4 separate regions of the Homo sapiens genome follow, and regions 2, 3 and 4 are each linked to region 1. Evidence: fine-mapped expression QTL. A gene starts in region 1. Each other region holds a variant in brackets. All regions are shown on one strand. Distances are between the middles of the regions. Region 1 holds the start of PDE8B (phosphodiesterase 8B). Region 2 has its middle 59 kb from the start of WDR41. Region 3 has its middle 10 kb from the start of WDR41. Region 4 has its middle 27 kb from the start of PDE8B.

What was found. PIP is the estimated chance that this variant, and not a neighbour inherited with it, causes the effect. A credible set is the group of variants that fine-mapping cannot tell apart.
Region 2: its variant is the best candidate, but not a certain one, in a credible set for the expression of PDE8B in cerebellar hemisphere (GTEx, PIP 0.57).
Region 3: its variant is the best candidate, but not a certain one, in a credible set for the expression of PDE8B in lymphoblastoid cells (GTEx, PIP 0.74).
Region 4: its variant is the best candidate, but not a certain one, in a credible set for the expression of PDE8B in lung (GTEx, PIP 0.58).

The regions. Positions count from the first base shown.
Region 1 is chr5:77,208,788-77,213,787 of GRCh38, forward strand. PDE8B (phosphodiesterase 8B) reads left to right here and starts at 1,893. Exons shown (of 22, transcript NM_003719.5): 1 at 1,893-2,477. The coding sequence starts at 2,139.
Region 2 is chr5:77,548,537-77,553,536 of GRCh38, forward strand. It overlaps a transcript of WDR41 not described here. Among named protein-coding and RNA genes, the nearest start is that of WDR41, 59 kb to the left of the region's middle. The variant A/G (reference allele first, on the strand shown) is at 1,948.
Region 3 is chr5:77,500,185-77,505,184 of GRCh38, forward strand. It overlaps a transcript of WDR41 not described here. Among named protein-coding and RNA genes, the nearest start is that of WDR41, 10 kb to the left of the region's middle. The variant A/G (reference allele first, on the strand shown) is at 2,750.
Region 4 is chr5:77,181,038-77,186,037 of GRCh38, forward strand. It overlaps a transcript of PDE8B not described here. Among named protein-coding and RNA genes, the nearest start is that of PDE8B, 27 kb to the right of the region's middle. The variant T/C (reference allele first, on the strand shown) is at 2,971.

The DNA of each region.
Region 1 (5,000 bases):
TGCCCAAGGTCGCTGAGGTGGCCTGCATGTAAAGACTGGTCCATGCTGGGGTATAAAGGCCCACCAGAACAACTCAGAACCCAGCCCCAACTCAGAACAACTCTGAAGCATCATCCCACCTTCAGAATCCTCCCTGCAGGGATGCCTGAGGCTTGGTCAATTTCTCCCTCTGCTCAAGCTTGCCTCCCTCCATTCCCTCCCTTTATTTCCTCCCACAAATGTTGACTACAAGAGCACTTCCTAAAAAGCCTCCCTCTGCCTGCTAAACACCATCTCAGAATCTGCTTCTAGGAGGACCCAACCTGTGCAGAAATTTTATGAGCAATTTGCCTGTCCATTAAAAAATACAGCATAGACTTTTTCCAGGTTAGCTGGAGATGGAGTTTTTTTGTATCAAAAAAAGAGAGCTAAACTGAGAAGAGAAGCAAAGGTAGAAGAATAAGGTTAGACTCTCCCTGTATAACTGAATTTGGGATTGGGAATGATATCTTGCTTCTCTATGAAATTTAGAAACTGTCTTTTGAAGTCTTCATCCAGTCACATCCAAGAGTGGTCCAGGAAGAAAAAGGAAAATAAGAATGAAAAAAAAACAAAAAACAAACCTTAAAATTGGATACTTCTTTGTGCCTTGCATTAAGCCTCTATGTTACTGCCCTTGTCCGTATAAGCAACTCTAGATAAAATCCTTTCTTAGACCATCTAATTTATCTCCCCGTGCCATTGTGAAAATCGGGCAGGAATTACTGCGGGAACCAGTGACTGAATGGGCAGTGGTGTCTCGCAGCTGTAACTCAGAGTTTACAAGGGAAGGATGAACAGCAGCCATCCTTCTAAAGGCATTCTTCCTCTCCTCCAGCACAGCTCAGTCTGTGCATGCCTCACCAAGGAGAATGAGGGAAGGCCTTGTTGACTGCCCAGCCCAGAGTGTGAGGAACAGCAGTTGACATGGGCGGCTGGACGGGATAGAAACCAGCATGAACATTTAGTGACACCTAAGGAAGAGGTGAAAATGGGGGAGAAAGCCAAGAACCATCAGACAGCTTCTTTCTGTTCTTGCCTTGGATCTTAGGGGAACGTATGTGTTCAAGGGTGCCTTCCTCCGCAGGGCCTCCCATCCCTTGGCACAAACTTCCAAACGATGAGTAGACATGGAATGGGCTTCTTCTGAAGACTGGGTCACCATCCAACTCAGCCTTCGGAGTAGGCGGTGGGGCTGGGGGAAGAGGACGGAACCATGAGGTCTCTCCATCACTTCCCGGGTGTGTTGAGAGGCAAGCAAATGCGGTGGGTGGGCCTGGGCTGTAGGGCCCCTGCCATTTCGGGAGGGGCCTCCTGGTGTTTAGCTCTGGGATGTGTGAAAATGTGTTGGTGAAAAGCGAGAGGCTTACACAGCCCTTCAGGGGAAGAGGGGCTGGGGCGCTGGGGGCGGCGTCGGGATGAGTGCAGAAGAGACGAGGCCTCTGGACAGCGGAGGAGGAGGGGAGGGCGCCGAGGCGCGGTGCCAGCTGCCGCGCACAGGGGCCCCGCGGCGGAGCCGAGCCGCGGGCACGCTCTGCCCTGTCGGGAGAGCTCCGGGAGCGGCGGGAGGGGCGGAGGGGCGCAGTGGGGCCCGGGCGGCTGCGGCCGCGGAGCCGGGGCACCTGAGGAGGAAGGAGGGTGGGAGCGAGGGAGGGAGGGGACGGGCGCAGACCGAAAGTGGGGAAAGAAGGTGCAGGCAGGCGGGCAGGCGGGCGGGCGCCCTGGCCCAGGGCCGCGGGTGCGGGAGCCCGGCGAGGTCGAGCTGGGCGGCGGCGGGGGCCGCGCCGAGGGAGGAGGGGAAGGCGGAGGCGCGGGGAGCGTGTTTGGGGCGCCGCGGCGGGGAGGGTGGCGGCCGCTGGTGCGCGCGGGGCGCTGTGTATGCGCGCTCCCCCGCTCGGGGAGGAAGATGGCCCAAAAGGGAAAGTTGGGGTGACGCGCGCGGTCCCCGGAGGCTCGGCGGGGGGCACCGCGGCCAGCCCGACGGAGCGGCGGACACACAGGCCGGGGGGCGCGCAGTCCGGGCGCCGCCGCGGCCGCCCCCTCACTGCAGGTGGCAGCGGGTGCGCTGGGTCCCGGCGGCCGCGGGCGCGGGCGGGCGCGCGGGGGAGCCCGGCCGAGGGATGGGCTGCGCCCCCAGCATCCATGTCTCGCAGAGCGGCGTGATCTACTGCCGGGACTCGGACGAGTCCAGCTCGCCCCGCCAGACCACCAGCGTGTCGCAGGGCCCGGCGGCACCCCTGCCCGGCCTCTTCGTCCAGACCGACGCCGCCGACGCCATCCCCCCGAGCCGCGCGTCGGGACCCCCCAGCGTAGCCCGCGTCCGCAGGGCCCGCACCGAGCTGGGCAGCGGTAGCAGCGCGGGTTCCGCAGCCCCCGCCGCGACCACCAGCAGGGGCCGGAGGCGCCACTGCTGCAGCAGCGCCGAGGCCGAGACTCAGACCTGCTACACCAGCGTGAAGGTAAATGCCCCGCGCTGGCACACGCCGTGGGGGCCGTCCGCCCCGTCGGCGGGGCTCGCACGGGTAGGGGGCTCCGGCGGAGTTGGGTGACCGTGAGGCGGTTGGTTTGGAGAGGTTGTCACTAAGGAGGAGTTTACTTTTCATTTGTGGAGATGATGGGAGCCCAGGAAATGTGGTCAGAAAAAGGCCCCTGGAGGGGTCCTGGAAGCGTCCTTAGCTGGTCCTGGGGGACTGGGCGGGGAAGGGAGCGCAGAAGGAAGCAGGTGGGCTGGCCTGTTCCTCCTTGAGGGCAGGAAGGCTGTGGCTTGGTTTATGCAGGAAGAGGGGTGGGGACCATTGAGAGCATTCGGTGGCCAGTCCTGTTGAATGAAATCTGAGCACTGAGCTGGATTTGCGTGCCTTGTAGGTGACTGGTGCAGTTGCAGCACCAGGATAGATAGTGCCCCATATTCCGATTTTTACCTGGGATTACCAGCCAGGCTGGAGTCTCAGCACAGGAACCGAGCGTAGGGATTTGTGAATGAATGAGTGTTCGTGTTTTAAGAGATGTGGGAACGGAGCAGAGTGGAACCTGTTGTTTGTCACTGTAACGTTTCTCTGGGTTGGCTGCATCCTAGACAGAATTGAGAGAACCGGGCCATGAGTTCGGAGTGTCAGCAGAGCCACCGTGAGGGGACGTGGTTTCCAGTGCAGTACAGCTGTCTGAGGATGATTCTGCACATACAACTGATCTTCCCAGAGAGTGGGATTTTGAGGAAGTGGAAAAAATTGTTTAGATGGTTAAAGCAGTCGCTAAATATTTATTTCTTAAAGACAGAAGAAAAATAATTATTTAAATAGTGTCCTCCCGTATGTTCTCAAAGTACCGTTAAATCCAAGAGGCTTTTCATTGTGTAAATCTGGGCACTGGGTCTTTTTTCCTTTCAGCAAACAAGATAACAATGGCATATCCTATTGTACAGAGAGAAAAAAATACTCCTAATGTCAGATAGAATCACAGCCTTTACCTGGTCAATAGGTTACCAAGAACCATTCCATGGATTATTTGTCAAAGACACATTTGTATTTTTAATAGTTAAAAACTTGGTCTTCATTGGATGAAGGCAGCCCACAGTGGAGGAGTGAGGAGAAGGATAACATGTTTTGGCTTCAATCTGGAAGTCCAAAAGTTTTTTAATGAACCTATTTTTTTTTTAACAGCATCTGATTGTTTAACATGAAGCTTGACTGATGTTTGCTTGTGGTTGCAGTGTTTCTCTGGCAGTAATCATAATCACCATTATAGTAAAAACATCGTTTATTGAGCACCTACTATGTGCCAGGAGTAAGCTTTCTCTCCTAACTATTGAATGTTAACAGTGTGATCTTAGCATAGCATGTCTGAAGACTAGAGTCTAGGATTTATGACAGTACAAACCTACCAGTTGCCCATTCGTTACAGAGGCATGTGCTGAACGCTATACTTTGCTTTTGTCAAGCTCTCTCTCTCTCCCCCTCCCTGTTCACACAAAGTTAGCTTTAGGAGCAATTTTCAGGGATGAAAATGTTAAATTTGGTGAAAATATTAAGTTGGGATATTATCAGTAAAGACCATCCTTTTGCCTGACGGTTGAAGACCTGAAGCAGTAGTTCAAAATTGTGACAGCTCATGAACTTTGTGATACTTTTTTTGGTTGCTCCAGAGAAATTGTGAATTTTTGTTTTCTAGAATATCTATAATCTCAGTTTAGTACTTGGCAACTCTAGCTACTCCATGTTTGTTCAGTAGAAGAAAGAATACTGAATGAACCCATTCTGTACATTTTTAATACTTCCCTCAAGAGGCTGCTTAGAGACCAAATGAAGTAAAAACTGAAGGGACAATGAGCCCCAATTATTAGCAGCTTGTATAAACTTGTATTAATCTCATTGCTACTTGGCTTAAGTATTAAAAGGCTTGACCTGGGTAGGAGTTTAACTCATTTTGCTTTATCAAGAAGATTCCCAAATAAGAGCTTAATTCACTCTAACCCATTACTGGGAATGTTGGAAATGAAACCCCTGGTTCATTGACTTAACACTACTTTGCATTGTGTGGATCTCAGAAAGTATATATTTGAAGTGAAATTTGAGACCAGAGTTATTTATGCAAATCTTACAGAATTATTATCACAGAACTGCCCTAATATATTTAATAGTATCCTTTTAGGCCTGTGACTCGGTGTTGTATTGTCTTTTCTCAATCGTAAAGTTCACATGTTCTGTGCCCTTTTGTTGCTGAGATAATTTTATAAAAACTTTACATTCATTTTTTTGTAGACTAAGCATTCTTTTTTTGCCGTAAGAGTTTGAGATAGTTGCTAGGCACGTGGTGGTGCCCCACCCCTTTCCAAAGCACACAGGTGGAAAAATAAAATCTTTACCATTTGGTCCTGTTTACAGTGGTGGAAGGTTGTAATAGTTTCCACCCCCTCCCCCTGGCCATTTTACATCAATTATGAAGTGTATCCTCATTATCTACTTGGCCTCTGGTATTCCCCAGAG
Region 2 (5,000 bases), 340 kb after region 1:
TCACTAATGATCAGGGAAATGCAAATCAAAACCACAATGTGATACCATCTTACTTCTGCTAGAATGGCCATAATCAAAGAATCAAAAAATAGTAGATGTTGGCATGGATGCTGTGAACAGGGAACATTTCTATGCTGCTGGTGGGAATGTAAACTAGTACAACCACTATAGAAAACAGTGTGGAGATTCCTTAAAGAACTAAAAGTAGAACTACCATTTGATCCAGCAATCCCACTGCTGGGTATCTATCTAGAGGAAAAGAAGTCATTATATGGAAAAGATACTTGCACATGCATGTCTATAGCAGCACAACTCACAATTGCAAAATCATGGAACCAACCCAAATGCCCATCAGTCAATGAGTGGATAAAAAAAACTGTGGTATATGTATATATACGATGGAATACTACTCAGCCATAAAAAGGAATGAATTAATGGCATTTGCAGTGTTCTGGATGAGATTGGAGACTATTATTCTAAGTGAAGTAACTCAGGAATGGAAAACCAAACATCGTATGTTCTCGCTTATAGTGGGAGCTAAGCTATGAGGATGCAAAGGAATAAGAATGACACAATGGACTTTGGGGACTCAGGGGGAAAGGGGGAAAGGGGGTGAAGGATAAAAGACTACAAATAGGGTGCAGTGTATACTGCCTGGGTGATGGGTGCACCAAAATCTCACAAATCACCACTAAAGAGCTTACTCATGTAACAAATATTACCTGTTCCCCAATAACCTATGGAAATTTAAAACAAAAGAAAAATAATGAGTCAAATTATCTTTCTTCACTGATGATATGATTATATACCTAGAAAACCCTAAAGACTCTATCAAAAGGCTCCTAAAACTGATAAATGACCTCCGGGAAAGTTTCAGGACACAAAATCAATGTACACAAATCAGTAACATTTCTATACAACAATAGCATTCAAGCTGAGAGCCAAATCAAGAACATAATCTCATTTTACAATAGCCGCTCCAAAAAAAACACCCCCAAAAAAACAAACCTAGGTACACATCTAGTTAAGGAGGTGAAAGATCTCTATGAGGAGAACTACAAAATGCTGCTGAAAGAAATCATAGACAACACGAACAAATGAAAAAACATTCTATGCTCATGGATTGGAAGAATCAATATTATTAAAATGGACATAGCCCAAAGCAATCTATAAATTCAACACTATTCCTATCAAGCTACCAATGTCATTTTTCACAGAATTAGAAAAAACTTCTGAAATTAAATATCCATAGCAATCCTAAGCAAAAAGAGTGAAGCAGGAGGCATCACATTACCCAACTTCAAATTATTCTATAAGGCTACAGTAACCAAAACAGCATGGTACTAGTACAAAAACAGACACATAGACCAATGAAACAGAATAGAAAACCCAGAAATAAAGCTGCACACCTGCAACCATCTGATATTCAAAAAAGTTGACAAAAATAAACAATGGATAAAGGACTGTATTCAGCAAATGGTGCTGAGATAGCTGGCTAGCCATAACCAGAAGAAAAAAAAAGGACCTCGACATTTCACCATATATAAAAATTAACTCAAGGTGGATTAAAGATTGAAATCTAAGACCTCAAACTATAAGAATCCTCAAAGAAAACCCAGGAAATACCATTCTGGACATTGGCCTTGGGAAAGAATTTGTGACTAAATTCTCAAAAGTAATTGCAGCATAAACAAAAATTGACAAGTGTGATCTCATTAAACTAAATAGTTTCGGCACAGCAAAAAAAATGATCAACAGATTTAATAGACAACTTACAAAATGGGAGAAAATATTTGCAAACTATTCATCCAACAAAGGTCTAATATCCAGAATCCATAAGTAACTTCAACAATTCAACCAGCAAAAAACCAAACATTCCCTTTAAAAGATAGGCAAAAGACATGAACAGACACTTCCCAAAAGAAGACAAAAAAGTGGCCAACAAAC[A/G]TAATGGGAAAATGCTCAACAGAGAAATGCAAATCAAATCCATGATGAGATACCATCTGACACTAGTCAAAATGGCTATTGTTAAAAAGCCAAAAATAACAGATGCTGGCAAGCCTGTGGAGAAAAGAGAATGCTTATACACTGTTGGTGGGAATGTACGAATTAGTTTAATCACTGTGGAATGCAGTTTGGAGATTTCACATAAAACTGAAAACAGAACTGCCATTTGACCCAGAAATCCCATTACTGAATTATAACCAAAGACAAATAAATCATTCTACCAAAAAGACACATGTACTCATATGTTCATCACAGCACTACTCATAATAGCAAAGACATGGAGTCAATCTAGATGCCCATCAATGTTGGCCTGCATAAAGAAAATATAGTACATGTATACCATGGAATACTATGCAGCCATATAAAGGAATAAAGTCATGTCCTTACCTAAGCAAATTAATGCAGGAACAGAAAACCAAATACCACAGGTTCTCACTTATAAGTGGGAGCTAAGCATTGGGTAAACATGACATAAAAACGGGAACAATAGACACTGGGGCCTCCTAGAGGAAGGAGAGAGAGAGGGGAGTAAGGGCTGAAAAGTACTAGGCTATTGAGTACTAGGCTCACTACCTGGGTGACAGGATCATTTGTACCCGAAACCTCAGCATCATGCTATGTACTCACGTAACAATCCTGCACAGTACCCTGTGAATTGAAAATAAAATCTGAAATTATAAAATAAAATTTCAGAAAGAAAGAATAAAATAAAATAAAATGTCCTAAGGATTTTGTATGTTTAAGAAGGGGGCAAAAATATTAATTCATGTTAGATTTTGATAAATGATATTCAAAAGCTAATTTTAGAATGACTAACAAAGTAAAAATAATATAGCATAAAATTTCCTTACTAGCTGGGTGTGGTGGCTCATGCCTGTAATCCCAGCACTTTGGGAGGCTGAGGCAGGAAGATCACCTGAGGTCAGGAGTTTGAGGCCAGCCCGGCCAACATAGCGAAACCCTGTCGCTACTAAAAACACAAGAATTAGCCTGGTGTGGTGGTGCTCACCTGTAATCCCAGCTACTTGGGAGGCTGAGGAATGAGAATTGCTTGAACCCAGGAGGTAGAGGCTGAAGTGAGCTGAGATTGCACCACTGCACTCCAGCCTGGGTGACAGAGTGAGACTCTGACTCAAAAAATAAAAAAATAAAGCCTGGGCGAGGTGGCTGTTGACTGTAGTACCAGCACTTTGGGAGGCCGAGGTGGGTGGATCACCTGAGGTCAGGAGTTTGAGACCAGCCTGGCCAACATGGTGAAACCCCTTCTCTACTAAAAATACAAAAACTAACTGGGTGTGGTGGCACGAGCCTGTAATCCCAGCTACTTGGGAGGCTAGAGGCATGAGAATCGCTTGAACTAGGGAGGCGGAGGTTGCAGCGAGCCGAGATCGTGCCACTGCACTCCAGCCTGGGCAACAGAGCAAGACTCTGTCTCAAAAAATAAAATAAAATAAAATAAAATAAAATAAAATAAAATAAAATAAAATAAAATAAAATAAAATAAAATAAAATAAAATAAAATCTCCTAACTAGTAGGGGAAAAATTGAATGAGAAAAAAAATGCAATTGATGCAGGGGAGGACAAGAAAGACCATAGAAAAGGTAGGGCAAATACAAACCACTAAATAAAATTGTCAAAATAAATCTAAATATATTAGTAATTTAAATAAATATAAAGACACATAAAAATCAATTATAGTAACAGTGAACATGCGGAAGCTGACATTAAAAACACAGGGCAATTTACAATAACTCCAAGGAAAATGAAATACTTATGCATTTACTTAACATGTGCAAGATCTATATGCTACAAATTACAAAATGCTGATTTTGTGAAAGTCAAAGAAGACTTAAATAAATGAAGAGATATATCATGTTTATGAACTGGAAGACTCAGTTTAGTAATGCTGTCAATTCTCCCCAAATTGGTCTATAGTTTAGTGTAACTCCTATCAAAATCCCAGCAATATTTTTTTCATAGACCGAGGCAAGCTTATGCTAAAATATATATGAAAAGGCACAGGCCCTGAATAGCTAGAGCAATCTTGATAGAGAAGAAAGACAAAGAAATGGGAGAAACTACTCTACCCATATTAAGCCTGGCTATATAATTACTGTAATCAAGAGAGTGTGGTGTGGGCAGAGGGGTAGACACATGAATCAACGGAGCAGCACAGGATACCCAGAAATAGATTCACACAGTCTGCCACACTGACTTGACAAAGGTGCAAAACCAATTTAAAGGAGGAGGAATAACCTTTTCAACAAATGATGCTGGAACAATTGCATATCCATATGGGGAAAAAAACCCTAGATCTAAATTTCATGCTTTATATAAAAAATGAGCTTAAATTGGATCACAGGCTTAAATGTAAAACAAACCTATAAGACTTTCAGCAAAACACATGGAAGAAAGTTGTCAGGATCTGGCGCTAAGCCAGTAGTTGCCAGACTTGACACCAACTGCATGATCCATAAAAAGAAAAACTGATGAATTGGACCTCCCTGAAATTAGAAATGTTTGTTCTGTGAAAGCCATATAAAGAGGATGAAAAGGAAAACTACACACTCAGGAGAAAATATTTGCAAGTCATATGCCTTAGTCCTTTTTTGCTGCTATAACAAAATACCTCAAACTGGGTAATTTATAAAGAACAGACATTTATTTTTCACAGCTCTGGAGGATGGGAAGTCCAAGATTTAATCACCAGCATTTGGTATCTGGTGAGGCCCCCATCTCCACTTTCAACCAAGATGGAGCCCTGTTGCTGCATCCTCTTGAGGGGACAAATGCTGTGTTCTCAAATAGCTGAAGGGATGTAAAGGGCAAAAAGGGCCTAAGCTAGTTCCCTCCAGCTAGGCACCAATTCATTCATGAGAGCAGAATCCCCCTGATTTAATCACTTCCCCAAAAGACCCCACCTCTCAATACCATCATAATGGGGATTAAGTTTCAACACATGAATTTTGGAGGGAATGCCATCTTTCAAATC
Region 3 (5,000 bases), 290 kb after region 1:
CAATTATAAACACTCTTGAAACAAACATTAAAACACAATGTATCAGCAAAGAAATAGAACATATAAAATAGAAAGAACCAAATGAAAAATTTTACATTTAACATACAATAACCAAAATTTAAAACTCAGTGGATGAACTAATAGCAGAATGGAGAGGACAGAGGCAAGAGTCAGTGAACTTAAATGGAGAAAATCAATAAAACCAAAAGCTGGTGTTTAAAAAGATCAGTGAAATTAATAAGCCACTAGCAAGACTGACAAAGAAAAAAAATAAAAGATAAAAATTAGCAGTATAAGGAATGAAAGCAGGGATATTACTGTAGGCCCCACAGACATTAAAGGGATAATAAGAGAGTATTATAAATAACCCTACACACAAAAATTTAACAACTGATGAAATGGAGTGATTTCTCAAATATCACAAATTACCAAAATCTGTTCAAGCTCAAATAGGTAACCTAAGTAGTCCCATAACCATTTACAAAATTGAATTCATAGTTTAAAATGTTCTTAAAAAGAAATCTTAGGGTTCAGATACCAAATCATAATGAAAATCCCAGAGGATTTCCTGTAGATAGACAAGCTGCTTCTAATAGGTATAAAGAAGGGCAGACGAACTAGAATGTGCTGTGAGACATTACATTAAAAACCAAAAAAGATACTAAAAACTTTAAAATTTGAATCTTGTAGTCCCTGCTCTCAAGAAACATATTTCAGGAGGTTCCAAGATGGACAAATAGGAGCAGTTCCGGTCTGCAGCTCCCAGCGTGATTGACACAGAAGATGGGTGATTTCTGCATTTCCAAATGAGGTACCTGGTTCATCTCATTGGGACTGCTTGGACAGTGGGCACAACCCATGTAGGGCAAGCCTAAGCAGGGCGAGGCGTTGCCTCACCCAGGAAGTGCAAGGGGTTGCAGGATTTCTGTTTCCTAGCCAAGGGAAGCCGTGACAGACTGTACCTGGAAAAACAGGACACTTCTGCCCAAATACTGCGCTTTTCCCAAGGTCTTAGCCACTGGCAGACCAGGAGATTCTCTCCCATTTCTGGCTCAGCGGGCCCCACACCCACAGGGCCTTGCTCACTGCTAGTGTAGCTGTCTGAGATTGAACTGCAAGGCGGCAGCCTGGCTTGGAGAGGAGCATCCACCATTGCTGAGGCTTGAGTAGGTAAACAAAGCAGCCGGGAAGCTCGAACTGGGCAGAGCCCGCCGCAGCTCAGCAAGGCCTACTGCCTCTATAGACTCCACCTCTGCGGGCAGGGCATAGCTGAACAAAAGTCAGCAGACAACTTCTGCAGACTTAAATGTCCCTGTCTGACAGCTCTGAAGAGAGCAGTGGTTCTCCCAGCACAGCGTTTGAGCTCTGAGAACAGACAGACTGTCTCCTCAAGTGGGTCCCTGACCCCTATGTAGCCTAACTGGGAGACACCTCCCAGTAGGGGCTGACAGACACCTCATATAGGTGGATGCCCCTCTGGGACAAAGCTTCCAGAGGAAGGATCAGGCAGCAATATTTGCTGTTCTGCAGCCTCTGCTTGTGATACCAAGGCAAACAGGGTCTGGAGTGGACCTCCAGCAAACTCCAACAGACCTGCAGCTGAGGGTCCTGACTGTTAGAATGAAAGCTAACAAACAGAAAGGAATAGCATCAACATCAAAAAGGACATCTACACCCCATTGGTAGGTCACCAACATCAAAGAGCAAAGGTAGATTAAAACCACAAAGATGGAGAGAAATCAGAGCAGAAAAACTGAAAATTCTAAACACCAGAGTACCTCTTCTCCATCACAGCTCCTCGCCACCAATCAAACAAAGCTGCATGGAGAATGACTTTGATGAGTTGACAGAAATAGGCTTCAGAAAGTTGGTAATAACAAACTCCTCTGAGCTAAAGGAGCATGTTCAAACCCACCACAAGGAAGCTAAAAACCTTGAAGAAAGGTTAGATGAATGGCTAACTAGAATAAACAGTATAGAGAAGATCTTAAATGACCTGATGGAGCTGAAAACCATAGCATGAAAACTTCGTGACACATACACAAGCTTCAATAGCCAATTCAATCAAATGGAAGAAAGGGTATTAGTGATTGAAGATCAAATTAATGAAATAAAGTGAGAAGAAAAGGTTAGAGAAAAAAAAGTAAAAAGAAATGACCAAAGCCTCCGAGAAATATGGGACTATGTGAAAAGACCAAATCTACGTTTGATAGGTGTACCTGAAAGTGATCGGGAGAATGCAACCAAGTTGGAAAACACTCTTCAGGATATTATCCAGGAGAACATCCCCAACCTAGCAAGGCAGGCTAACATTCAAATTCAGAAAAATAGATAACACCACAAAGATACTCCTCAAGAAGAGCAACCCCAAGACACATAATTATCAGATTCACCAAGGTTGAAATGAATGAAAAAATGTTAAGGGCAGCCAGAGAGAAAGGTCCAGTTACCCACAAAGGGAAGCCCATCAGACTGACAGCGGATCACTCGGGAGAAACCCTATAAGCCAGAAGAGAGCGGGGGCTGATATTCAACATTCTTAAAATAATTTTCAACCCAGAATTTCATACCCAGCCAAACTAAGCTTCATAAGTGAAGGAGAAATAAAATCCCTTACAGACAGGCAAATGCTGAGAGATTTTGTCACCACCAGGCCTGCCTTACAAGAGCTCCTGAAGGAAGCACTAAACATGGAAATAAACAACCAGTACCAGCCAGCGCAAAAACATGCCAAATTGTAAAGACCATC[A/G]ATGCTATGAAGAAACTGCATCAATTAACGGGAAAAATAACCAGCTAACATCATAATGATGGATCATATTCACACATAACAATATTAACCTTAAATGTAAACAGGCCAAATGCCCAAATTAAAAAACACAGACCGGCAAATTGGATAGAGTCAAGACCCATCAGTGTGCTATATTCAGGAGACCTATCTCACCTGCAGAGACACACATAGGCTCAAAATAAAGGGATGGAGGAAGATCTACCAAGCAAATGGAAAGCAAAAAAAAAAAAAAAAAAAAGCAGGAGTTGCCATCCTAGTCTCTGATAAAACAGACTTTAAACCAACAAAGATCAAGAGAGACAAGGAAGGCCATTACATAATGGTAAAGGGATCAATTCAACAAGAAGAGCTAACTATCCTAAATATATATGCACCCAATACAGGAGGACCCAGATTCATAAAGCAAGTCCTGAGTGACCTACAAAGAGACTTAGACTCCCACACAATAATAATGGGAGATTTTAATACCCCACTGTCAATATTAGACAGATCAACAAGACAGAAGGTTAACAAGGATATCCAGGACTTGAACTCAGCTCTGCACCAAGCAGACCTAATAGACATCTACAGACCTCTTCACCCAAAATTAACAGAATGTACATTCTTCTCAGCACCACATCACACTTATTCTAAAATTGACCACATAATTGGAAGTAAAGCACTCCTCAGCAAATATAAGAGAACAGAAATCTCAAAAAACTGTCTCTCAGACCACAGTGCAATCAAATTAGAACTCAGGATTAAGAAACTCACTCAAAACCACTCAACTACATGGAAACTGAACAACCTGGTCCTGAATGACTACTGGGGAAATAATGACATGAAGGCAGAAATAAAGATTTTCTTTGAAACCAATGAGAACAAAGACACAACATACCGGACTCTCTGGGACACACTTAAAGCAGTGTGTAGAGGGAAATTTATAGCACTAAATGCCCACAAGGGAAAGCAGGAAAGATCTAAAATAGACACCCTACCGTCACAATTAAAAGAACTAGAGAAGCAAGAACAAACACATTCAAAAACTAGCAGAAGAGAAGAAATGACTAAGATCAGAGCAGAACTGAAGGAGATAGAGACACGAAAAACCCTTCAAAAAATCAGTGAATCCAGGAGCTGGCTTTTTGAAAAGATCAACAAAATTGATAGACTGCTAGCAAGACTAATAAAGAAAAAAAAAAGAGAAGAATCAAATAGATGCAATAAAAAATGATAAAGGGGATATCACCACTGATCCCACAGAAATACAAACTACCATCAGAGAATACTATACCTCTATGCAAATAAACTAGAAAATCTAGAAGAAATGGATAAATTCCTTGACACATACACCCTCCCAAGACTAAACCAGGAAGAAGTTGAATTTCTGAATAGAACAATAACAGGCTCTGAAATTGACGCAATAATTAATAGCCTACCAACCAAAAAAAGTCCAGGACCAGATGGATTCACAGCTGAATTCTACCAGAGGTACAAAGAAGAGCTGGTACCATTCCTTCTGAAACTATTCCAATCAATAGAAAAAGAGGGAATCCTCCCTAACTCATTTTAGGAGGCCAGCATCATCCTGATACCAAAGCCTGGCAGAGACACAACAAAAAAAGAGAATTTTAGACCAATATCCCTGACGAACATCGATGCAAAAATCCTCAATAAAATACTGGCAAACCGAATCCAGCAGCACATCAAAAAGCTTATCCACCACAATCAAGTCAGCTTCATCCCTGGGATGCAAGGCTGGTTCAATATACGCAAATCAATAAACGTAATCCATCACATAAACAGAACCAACAACAAAAACCACATGATTATCTCAATAGATGCAGTAAAGGCCTTCGACAAAATTCAACAGCCCTTCACGCTAAAAACTCTCAATAAACTAGGTATCGATGGAACGTATCTCAAAATAATAAGAGATATTTATGACAAATCCACAGCCAATATCATACTGAATGGGCAAAAACTGGAAGCATTCCCTTTGAAAACCAGCACAAGACAAGGATGTTCTCTCTCACCACTCCTATTCAACATAGTGTTGGAAGTTCTGGCCAGGGCAATCAGGCAAGAGAAAGAAATAAAGGGTATTCAATTAGGAAAAGAGGAAGTCAAATTGTCCCTGTTTGCAGATGACATGATTGTATATTTAGAAAACCCCATCGTCTCCACCCAAAATCTCCTTAAGCTGATAAGCAACTTCAGCAAAGTGTCTCAG
Region 4 (5,000 bases), 28 kb before region 1:
GGACTCTGCAATGGGGCACCCACCCCTACCCCTACCCCTACCCCAACCCCCACCCCCACCACCATCCCCACCCTCACCCTTGCACTAAGTTCTAGGGACAACGCTAGCTGGGTGAATAGACGGAGCGTGGACTAAACCACCCGCCTCATCCCCTGTGGGAAGGGATGTTTGGAGGTGGAGCAAAGCAAAGGAAGAGCTGGAACGTGTGTACAAAGAAGGGTCCCACGCTGCGGGGTCGCAGGAAAGTGCCCGGGAGAACAGTCTGTGGTAGGGAGGGACGCTTAGTGCAAGGGGGAAGCTGCGCAGGCGGCGCTGCCACTCTGAACTTGGGGGCGTTCCGCTAGGCGTTCAGAGTGTCCTCTGAAACGCACCTAGTTACCAGGATCAAAGTAGCTGTGCTCCTAAGGACTGTTGGGAGAGGTGAGGCTTGCAGCAGCCTTTACAAAAGCTTGGCTAGAAGCCTTGAACCGTCCACAGGCTCCTCTATACCCTCAAGACTAGCTGTGCCCATCCATTCTGCTTCTGGCTCAATCTGACACCAGTTTACCCGTCCCCAGGTTGCCAGCTCCAGAAAAACACTGCTGGCGGCGAGGTGTGAGTTACTAGGACTGTAAGACCTCCGCAGTTGAGTGGTGGTTATTTGCCCAGGCTGCCTTCCATGGACGGTCGGTCGGGAGGTCAGGGTGGCTGGGGGCATGCTGGCTCTGATAGTTACAAGTGCTTCTGTCTGAACCTGAAGTTGGACGTGCAGTGCTAACCTAGAAGAGAGAGTTCCTCTAAACTGTGTGTTGGGAGACAATCAACGAAAACATTTACACAAGGTCCCCAGGGGAGGCGAGGGCCAGAGGACCCGCCCTCTCGGATTTTATAACCCAGCAGTTCGCATTGCCAGTTCTACTTGACTGCCCTCTTGACCTTGAATAAGTTATTTTAACTTTGTAGAGGTTCGGTTTTCCAAGAAGCAAAAACAGAAGAATGACAATTCATCAGCAGTGGCAAGAGCATGGATTGGAGGCCAGGGAGTTGGATTCCAAGCTCAGTGGTACCACTGACCAGTTGTGAAACTCAGGGCAAGAGGTACAACCTGTCCTGGCCTCAGCTGCCAGGAAGGCTCAGAGCCTTTAATTCTGGATTCCACTCTGGCAGTAATCTGCCAGACTTAGCCTGTGAATGCTCACTAGTTCTTTGCAGTCTTGCTACAGATTGTACTTGGTTCCAAAGAGCGTTTATGGACGGAAGAGATACTAGATCAGTGGGTGAATTGAATTTTAATTCCAATCTGTTCATAGGGCTACACAAATCATTCAGGCTTAAAGATAGGTGGAAGTAAGCCTGACTGGTTTAGTTAATGCTTAGAATGCACTGGGAAGGATCTCACATAGAAAGTCCTGGTAAAGTTTGAGCTTGGTTATATAATCCTGGAAGACATCCTTTCTGTGCATTTGAAAGATTCCAGCCACAACCTCCCTGTTACAGGCATGAGTAGAGGGGAAGCCCCACACTAACCCCTCAGTGGAAGACAGCCCAGTCTTGCAGAGCTCATGGAGGCCGCTTACATCATATCTGATAAACAATTGACTTACCTGGGAATGACTCAGTTAATGTCAACTTCTCAGAAAAGCAGCTTATCAGTTTGGTAATGAAATAGTTAAATTGTCTTTAAAAGCTGTATTAAATATTGGATGCCTAATTGCCAGAGCTTATTGAGATAAGCACTGCTTTTTTTTTTTTTTACTTTATATACACATCTTATTTTTATTTATGGAGAATCAGTTAATAAACACATTTTAAATTCAATATATTATGTATTTGCTTTTTTGATAACACTGCTCTTTAGCTTTTTAATTTAGCTTTAGGAAGGGAAATAAGCAGGATGACAATTTTTTTTACTAGATAATTATTATAAGAGATTAAAAAGCCACAAAGAACCTTGTTTCTTCAGGTTTTCAGAGATGAATATCAACATAATGGTGAAAATTTTTTAAGTACTTAGGCGCTAGGCATTGGACTAAGCTCTTTATGTAAACACTATCATGTAATCCTATCAACACCTTCTGAAGATGTGCTATTATTATTATTATTATTATTATTAATTATTTTGAGACAGAGTCTTGCTCTGTTGTCCAGGCTGTAGTACAGTGGTTTGATCTCGGCTCACTGCAACCTCTGCCTCCCAAGTTCAAGTGGTTCTCCTGCCTTAGCCTCCCGAGTAGTTGGGGCTACAGGTGCGCACCACCAGGCTTGGCTAATTTTTGTATTTTCAGTAGAGACAGGGTTTCACCATGTTGGTCAGGCTGGTCTCGAACTCCTGACCTCATGATCCACCCGCCTCGGCCTCCCAAAGTGCTGGGATTACAGGCATGAGCCACTGTGCCTGGGCGCTACTATTTCTTTAAATTTTACAAATGGGAGAGCTGAGACTTCTCATCTTAGATGACACAGCTAGTAGGTGGTGGAGCTGAACCAGCCAGCTGGGTGTATTTACAATGATCCAAGCGACATGCAAGAAGGAAGAAAAGGGGAGGGCAAAAAGTGCCTACTACGTGTCAGATGCTTTATACACCTCAGTGCATAGAGATTTAAAAATCTTTTATGAGTGATAATTTTCTTTTCTTTTTCTACTTGGACTTTCTTGCTTTCATCAACATGATCTGGGTGTCTTTTCATGTCAGCAAAGAGATTGACTCCTTTATTTTTAACTCTGTAAGCTTGAGAGCAGATGGGTAAACCGTAATTTATTTAACCAATCCCTGTGAATGGGCATTTGGATTATTTCTCAGTTTTCACAGTCACATACAGTACTTGTGAAAGATCACACAGTGGATCCATTTATTTATATATTTCTGCATACCTGTTTAGATATTTCTGGTGAATCTGTTCCTAGGGGTGGAATTATTATGTGAAAGATCATGGTTACTATTTAAATACATACTTTTTTTTTTTAAAAAAAAACAGAATCTCCCTCTGTTG[T/C]CCAGGCTGGAGGGGAGTAGTGCATTATTGGCTCACTGCAGGCTTGACCTCCCCATCCAAGCAGTCCTCCTGCCTTAGCATCCGGATTAGCTGGGACTATAGGCGTGCGCCACCATGCCCAGCTAATTTTTTAATTATTGTAGAGACAGAGTCTCACTGTGTTGCCCCAGCTGGTCTCAAACTCCTAAGTTCAAGTGATCCTCCCACTTCAGCCTCCCAAAGTACTGGGATTACAGGTGTGAGCCACCGTGCTGGCCAGATATATACTTTTAAATACATACTGCTAACTTGCCTTCCCTAAATGAAATGTAATTTCTGATTTGGGGTCCAATTCTTCCACTAACATGTTTTTGGAGTTTTGATAAATCATTTAATCTGAGAGGGTCTCAGAAGTATTGTCTATAAACTATGGATGGTAGGACTTGTTGGTTGCCAAGGTCTTTTCCAACCGTAAGGGTCTGCAAATATGTGCAGTTAGAGGTCACACAAATGAAACTGTCCATATTTGACCATTTTTTGCCTACAAAAACAACAACTTAGTATGATTTTATCTAATATCACATGAATTCCTAAAATATCTGTTTTTGGTACCCTGGCTTTTCTGAGGTAGCTTTATGTGTGAGAAGTGGCTAGGCTATGCTGCAGCCACAAATCAACCCTGAAACCTCAGTAGCTTAAAAAATAGAAAGAGGCTGGGCATGATGGCTCACACCTATAATCCCAGCACTTTAGGGGGCTGAGGCAGGAGGATTGCTTGAGGCCAGAAGTTTAAGACCAGCTTAGGCAACATAGTGAGACCCTTCTTTAAATTTTTCAAAATAAAAATAAAAATAAAATAATAAAATAAAAATGAAAAATAAAATATAAAGATTTATTTGTCACTCACATTTTATGTCCAAAGCAGGTTAGCAGAGTGCCCTGCTCCACAGAGGCACTCAGGGCACCAGGCTATCAGAGCTCTGCCATCTTGTAACTGCACTATCTAGAACATGCAGTCTTGATGGTCCTATGGCAGGGGAGGAAACAGAGACAGTGGAGAATCAACACCTGCTTGTAAATGCCTTGGCTCAGAAATGAAGCATATTTCTTGTATTTACAGTCTTTTGGTAAGAACTAGTCACACAGACCTCAACCTGATGCGTGGAGACAAGGAAATGCTTTTCAGTGTGTCCAGAAAGAGAAAATGGTAAATACATAGCACTCTGTATTAGTTTGCTAGAGCTGCCATAATAAAGTACTAAAGACTGATAGCTCACACAACCGAGATTGACTTCTTTATAGTTCTGGAGGCTAAAAGCCTCAGAACTATAAGGTATCAGCAGCATTGGTTAATTCTGAGGACCTCTCTTCTTGGCTTGTAGACGGTCATCTTTTCCCTCTGTCTTCATATGGTCTTCCCTCTGTGTGTCTATGCCCTAATCTCTTCTTACAAAGACACCAGTCATATTGGATTAGGAGCCATGTTAATGACCTCATTTAAAATTAATTCCTCTTTAAAGACTCTATCTCCAAATACAGTTACATTCTGAGGTACTGGGAGTTAGGACTTCAACCTAAGAATTGTGTTGAACACAATTCAGCCCATAACACATTGTCTCTGTCAGACAGCACATCCTGAGATGTAGTCATGCTGTTTTCATTGGAGGGGGCCTGTAGGTTACTGAGCCATGTTATGGAGTCATCTTCCTCTTCACCTCACATCCATCTCCTCCTGTCCCCCCACCCCCTGCCATTTCCTAACCCAAAACTGTTATTTTTCTGAATTCCCTGGGTAATATTTAAAGCGGCCCAATGTTACTACTTACATCAAGCAAATTTTATTGATGGCATTGACTGTAATGTGAAGCCGAGTGGCTGTGGGTTAGAGATGGGAAACCTAGGGGTTAGGAGCACCAACTCTGAAGCAGACTGCCTGGGTGCTAATCCCAGCTCCATTGCTTGCCAGTAGTATTCCTCATCTGTCAAATGGGAATAGTAATACTTCCCTTGCAGGGTTATTGTCCTGATTAAATGAGATAATCTATGTAAAG